2 linked regions of the Homo sapiens genome follow. The protein of the gene in region 1 purifies or fractionates together with the protein of each later gene. This does not show direct contact. Each region holds a gene or a part of one and is shown on either strand. Other genes may lie near its edges. The genes, in order: CHGA and XPNPEP3.

Region 1 (3,600 bases):
AACTGCTGGGATTACAGGTGTAAACCACTGCGCCCAGCTGACCCACCCTATTTAAGTATAACCCCACCCTGTCTCAGCACAGCCGTCCCCTTCCGTGCTGACAAACTGTGGGTGTTACTTCTTATTCATTGTCTGTCTTCACCATCTAGAATGTAGGGCTTCTGTCTGTTCTGTTTAATGCTGTACCCTCAACTGTGTACTGTTCTAGGATGTTCTAAGCACATAGTAGGTGCTTAGCAAAGCAAATATGTAAATTCATGAATGTGGCCATTTCAGTCTCCTTTGAGCTCCCACCAGGTTCTCATTTAGGGACAGGCGTGAGCACAGGTGTGGGAAAGGAAGTATTAGTAGAAAACAGCAGCCGCAGATGGAGAGGGGTGGGCAGGAAGGAGGGGCTCTGGACGATGCCAGCCAATGACAAACCGTCACCCAGATCCCAGGTTCCCTGTGACAGTGGGGTCAGGTGGCAAAGAGCTTCCAACACGGCCCCCAGAGCTGGAGCCCAAAGAGCTGGAGCATCAGGGGCCCCAGAAATAAGGGAAGCCAACCAGGAAACTGACCTTTTACACAAAATATCCAGGTTTTGAGAATGCTCAGGAAGAGGTGAGAGCTGTTCTCAAATTCAGATGGGCTGCCAGTGGCAAGAAGGTGATGCTAAGGGGTTGCACTAGGGCTAATGGGTAGGTGTTGCAAGGACTCCTATTTTGGCGGATGTAATAAGAACTGGCCCCCACTCCTCCCTCTACCTAACAAGAGGTGTCCAACAGTGGCTTAAGCTTCCTGGTGAAAGTGAGCCCCTGGTTCCCGTGTGTATGCAGAGCCCAGGATTCACTCACCCATGGCTTGAACCTTTAATGGATACATTCATCAGTTACCTGTCAAGTGCGTTTCCTCTGTGCCAGATTGTGTGGCGCTCAGCACTGTGAAAGTAATGATGACTAAACATTATTCAAATAAATACACATTCAACAACAAAGTGTGAAGGCACAAAACTAGCTTGCCAGAGAGAGAGAAGCCTCACTCAGACAGGGGATCAAAGGCCCCTCTAGAGCCTCCTAGATATTGGAGAGAGCCATGAGTGATGGGCATGCCTCCAGCCTGTGAGACCGGGGGAGCATACCCCAGGCAGAGGGCACTTAGGAAAAATAGCACGGGGTGCTAGCGCTGCCAGGGACCTCAGTACACATGGAAGAAGGCAAGGTCCAGAGATCCGAGTGACTTGCCCAGGGACACAAGGCAAATCGGTGGAATCGTCGAGGGGTGGAGGATCAGCCACAGCCCCCCGCCTCCCACGCCACCTCTTGGAAACCAGATACCCGCCTCGCGGCCAAGACCCACCAGCTCCAAGCGGCGGAGGCCAGAGGTAGCGAGGGGTGAGGTTAGAGGTGGGGGCGAGCGGGGACTGGACACCTGGGGAGTGGGGAAAGGGGAAGGGGGCGGCACCGCTGACGTCATTTCCGGGGTCGGGGTATATAAGCGGGGCGCGAGGGCGCTGCTGCTGCCACCGCTCCTGCCACTGCAGTGCTCGAGCCCCGTGCAGGGGAGCTTGCGGGAGGATCGACCGACAGACGGACGCACGCCGAGGCACTGCGCCCCCAGCCCCGCGCCGGTGCCACCGCAGCCCGACCCCGGCCGCCAGTCCAGCCGCCCCTCGCCCGGTGCCTAGGTGCCCGGCCCCACACCGCCAGCTGCTCGGCGCCCGGGTCCGCCATGCGCTCCGCCGCTGTCCTGGCTCTTCTGCTCTGCGCCGGGCAAGGTGAGCGAGCGCGGGGAGCTCGCGGGAGAGGGTTCCGGGCGCCCCTGCCCACCTTGAGGTCCGGGCACCGCGCGGCGCCCCGCACCCCTCCACACTTCCCTTCGGGCGCGGCGAGTTTTCAGCACCGCGGACAGCGCCTCCGCCTCCCGCCTGACCCTGCAGTGTGGCCTCCGCCTGGGACCCACAAGACACTTGGGCCTGACTCCCAACCCCCCGGGGCAACTCCCCCTTGTGCCCACCCCTTGTCTGGGCTTGGCGCCTCGGTTGCATCAGGGCCAGTGCCGGTTGCGCGGTGGCCGGCCAAGGTCACTGCGGGGAGGTGGGAGCATGGCTGCTCGCAACCCTCCACCCCTCTTCCCCTTTCATCTCACGCTCCCCGCCTTTCTGCCCTTGACTTCTACTTCTCCATATCATCCCTCACAATCCCCTTCCTCCATCTCTTCCCCCGCCCCCCCCACCTCTGGGGTCTCTCTCCCCTTCGTCTGTCTCCCACCCGTCCCACTGTGCAGCTCTTGGCCTTGTTTGATGGCGCTCCCCGCTCCAAAGCACACCCGCTCCAGAGCAAGAGTTTCCAAAGGGGGAGGGGGAGGACCTCTCAGTGCAGCCTCTGGGGACCACCCCACTGTGGGCAGCAACCAGGGAAGGGAAACAAAATCAGCCCTAGCCTCTCTTTTTGGTGGGGGCAGTTTTGAGGGGTGGCATTGGGTGAACGGGCCCCAGTGAGCCCGGTCAGAAAGGACTGGCCTCCACTTGGAGCAGAGGAGTGACCCCAGCACTCTCTTCTTCTTCCCAGTCACTGCGCTCCCTGTGAACAGCCCTATGAATAAAGGGGATACCGAGGTAAGAAGGGGTGCTGGGGATGAGGGGTAGGAGGCTCCAGTGGACACTTCACAGCCAGTTCTTGGGCAGCTGCAGGAGTAAGTTCGGCATAAAGCCAAGAGCCAGCACTGCGGCTGCTGAGCCTGGGGACAGCTTGCAAAAGAAGATATCAAAGATTGCTTGCTTTCCCTGCTGTCCTGCTGTGGGGACTTCCCCAGCTTCCTCTGAGCTGCACATGCAGCGGAAGAGGCCTGCATCTTACCTGCTGGGCCGAGGTGCCTGGCTTCAGGCTGTCTTGAACACTCTGAATCCAGTAGGCTCCCCAGGGGCTGGTGGGGGTGGCTTCTCTGTAGTTGTAGTTGTCCACAGACCTGTAAAAATGGCCTTTGCCTGCCTGGCTCTGGCCTCCCCGCTTTGCTCTTTCTCCCTGAAAGGCTCTGCCAGTAACAACCCACACCCAGCAGGCTCTCCAGCCCTGGCTGTCCCAAAGGAACACAAGCAAAACATCTTGATCATGGCTCCTGCACCCACGGTCCCACCAATAGGGGCTAGTTGTGGAGGTCACCCAGGAAAGGGCCTTAGGAGACACTAGTAGGGGTTTCTCTGGCAGCAAGAGACACACCACGCTGGGTGTGTACTTGGAATTCATTCATGGCTGAGCTGGGGCTGTTTTTTCCAGGCTCTAGTGCTCATCCAAATCTCTGACTTGAGGGTCAGAGAAATTTCTACTCCCCACCTTCCCAGAAACTATTCTCTTCCACTAGACACCACAGTTAAAATCCAAACCATCCAAGAGATTCCAACCTCTGTTTGCTCAATTATATTTCCTATGTTTTAGTTGCAGATAGGACAGAATTTAAACCTCTACCACTCATTCTAGCTGTGTGACCTTGGGAAAATTCCTTAATTTCTCTGAGCTCCGCCTTTTTCTCCTTTTCCTTGAGGGGAGGTGTAAAGAGTAGGAATCATGGATGTGAATTGCCTAGCACATAATAGGTCCTCAGTAAATGGGCACTTTTATTCCT
Region 2 (3,092 bases), on another chromosome or scaffold:
TGTGATTAACCAAAACACACACAATTGTGTTCAAATGTTATATATTTGAAGAGTCAATTTAACAATTCCTTTTGGTAGACTTCTTTTGCACCTCTTTACGCTTCTTTTTTTTCCTCTTACCACCCTCTTTGACTCCTGCTGAGAAAATAGGGGGATCTCTGTTGCTGGTAACCCAAGATATACCTCCCTCATCATTGTCCACGAAAGTATATTGAGATACATGTTTGGAGCTGTGAGAATTTGGTGAATAGTTGTTGAATGACTGTGTTCTCCAGCTGCATTCTTTTGCAAAGCCCTCTTCATTGGCCACACTATTTACAAGAAAAAATGTCAACTCTCCATTATCTTCAGCTTCTCTTTCTTGATCACTTTCAATAATTTTCTTTGTATTAATATTTCTGCCATTAACGATTTTGTCTGAAGTTGTAACAGATATGTAGTTGTCCATCCCACTATTATCAAAAGCCAGGGAAGAGAAAGAAGTAAGGCCTTCATGCCCCAATGAACCCTGTGATGTATATCCTGTATCATATGAAGAAAATTTCTCAAAAATTGGATATTCACTGGCAGTGGAGAAAAAGTATCCTGCATCTCTGTTTCTGTTTCCATAGGAGCTTCCTGGACGATTTAACAGGTCCTCAAGCGAGTCTTCAAAGAAGTGAAAAGAAAATGGATCCCTTTCATGAAAAATTTCTTTAAAAACATCATCTGGCTTATGGAATGTGAAGCCGTACTCACATTCATCATCAAAATGACTTCCACCTCCGTTTAATCCTTCTGTGCCATATTTATCATAAATGTCCCGTTTCTCATCATTTGATAATACCTCGTATGCCTCAGCTACTTCTTTGAATTTTCTCTCTGCTTCTTCTTTATTTTCTGGATTTTTATCAGGGTGCCATTTAAGTGCCACTTTATGATAAGCTTTTTTAATGTCCTCAGGTGAAGCATATCTTTGCAGTCCTAGAACTTCATAGTAATCCACCATGTTTTAACAGATAGTTGGAAGTGGGTGTGCTGGGTATTGAGAACCGTGGTTTCCTCAGCTCAGGCTCTGCTGGTGGTGGTGATAGAGGTAGTGACTGCAAATAGGTACACTTTTATGTTAAAGACAATGTTATTACCATGTGCTAAGAGATGAGGATACTGATTATGTGGCAAGCAGAGTTACAAATATGTCAGAGAGGGCTGCATTATGGTGTCATTCTGGGGTCAGTGTAGGGACTGGACCTTCCAAATAGAGCTAGTCCAGAGTCGTACCAGACCATCCTGAATCCTCTGGACTGTTTCCCCTGTATGTTTCCCTGGAAGCTTCAGGCAGTGCCTCATAAGCCAATGGAATCTGTTGCTAATAGCCACAGCATATCCCTTGCATAATATGACCTCTAGATTACTGCGCCTTAATTGCTTCCCAGCTCTTCTATGCTTTGGTTTAGAAAAATGAAGTACTGACTTACGGGTGAAGAAAGTATTCAAACAGTTGACATATTTATTTCAGTCAAGAAACAGTTCAGAGGGAGATACAAACAAGTAACTTAGTTACAATATAATAGTTATGATGAGAGGAAGTACTGGATGCTAAACAATTATATGAGAGACAGCTCAGGCTGGGGGTGTCAATGAAAGCCTCTTGGAGGAAGTAGCCTGATATGTTAACTTTCTGCATGCCAGTGGTAAGTCATTTGAGATTATAGTATCTTTGTCCACCCAAGGTTTACTGCTGTAAAACATGTAATTAAAGATTTGGAAAGTTGTGTGTTTATGTATTCACTGTATAATTATTGATTGTCTACTTTGTGCCAGGCACCGTTTTAGCCACTGGTGATAGCAGTATTGAACAAAAGACACCAGTTTTCCTGGTGCTTGCATTATAATAGAATACAAATAGGAGAACAAATAAAATAATTTAAGATAATGCGATATGTGCTCCAAAAAAAATAGCAATGTGCTGGGGGCAGAGCGCTACTTTAGATTGGTTTTAGAAGGCTTCTGAGGAGATGACATTATTGCTGAGACCTATATGACAGTCAGCCACATAGTGATCTAATATGGTAGCCACTGGCCATGTTGATGGACATTTTGGTTGTTGCCAGTTGGGGCTGTTGGACATAAAGCTAGCACTTATTTCAAGTACAGTGGGAAGCCTTTGTGGGGAGTGGGGAATATGCAAGTTTAATGATGTGATTTACATTTGTAATGGATCAGTGGCTACTATTTGGAAATTCAGTCATGTATGGGAAAGTAGAATTCGAGAGCCAAATTAGAAACAGACCAAAGGTGATTTTCTTTGGGGATAAACTACCAGTAGTCTAGACCCGAATTTAAAGGTCTTATATTCTATACCTGGCTCATTTTATTGTCTGAGAAAATTCCCTGTAATCTTTGTTTTTCCTCCTCTATGTTGTGTTTATTTTATTTTCCATCACATTTATAACCCCTCAGTTAAATGATACGCTAATGAAATCTAAAACTGTAGTGTATGCTTCTAGTCTTTCAAGACCATTTGTCAGGTCTGAATATTTTTTTGCTTTGCATTTTTATATATACTCATTTTTTAGAGGTATTGTGAAATGCTTAAAACTCAATTTAAATTCTCTCCAGTGTATGTGCTTACATGTACTTATGTGTGGCTTACCCATGATTATAATTTGCCTACCACTGGAAATAATAACCAATAATGTCGAAAATTATTTGAGTACCCTCTGAGTCACACTGTAGCAAGTGCTCATTTAACTGACACAGCACTCTAGCAAAATAAATATTTTATGCCCATAAGAAAACAGACGTTCTGAGAGAGAAAGTAATTTGTCTAAGGCTACATAGCTTGTTAGTGAAAAATCTGATTTTTAAACTTGAGTCTAATTTCAAGTTCTCATTCCACTCTACTGCATTTCTCGGACTAGGACTTAAAGAGTTTAGGTTCTAGGCATTCCACAAACAGATACTGAGAACCTGCTGTTACCGGAAAGGGGTCCCAATCCAGACCCCAAGAGATGGTTCTTGGATCTCGTGCAAGAAAGAATTTCAGTGGAATCCACAGAGTAAAGTAAAAGCAAGTTTATTAAGAAAGTAAAGGAATAAAGAATGGCTAC

The links.
Region 2: the proteins of CHGA (region 1) and XPNPEP3 purify together in Homo sapiens (affinity purification with mass spectrometry; one large-scale study listed by BioGRID and IntAct). This does not show direct contact.

Annotation. Positions count from the first base shown.
Region 1 is NC_000014.9:92,921,650-92,925,249, forward strand, and holds the start of CHGA (chromogranin-A isoform 1 preproprotein), read left to right. Parts: upstream 1-1,500; 5' UTR 1,501-1,710; coding exon 1,711-1,756; intron 1,757-2,549; coding exon 2,550-2,596; intron 2,597-3,600.
Region 2 is NC_000022.11:40,861,007-40,864,098, forward strand, and holds part of XPNPEP3 (xaa-Pro aminopeptidase 3), read left to right. Parts: exon of another isoform or gene 1-58; coding exon of another isoform or gene 59-988; exon of another isoform or gene 989-1,766; intron 1,767-3,092. Other genes in the region: DNAJB7 (dnaJ homolog subfamily B member 7), read right to left, coding at 59-988. UniProt on the Homo sapiens protein: Catalyzes the removal of a penultimate prolyl residue from the N-termini of peptides, such as Leu-Pro-Ala. Also shows low activity towards peptides with Ala or Ser at the P1 position.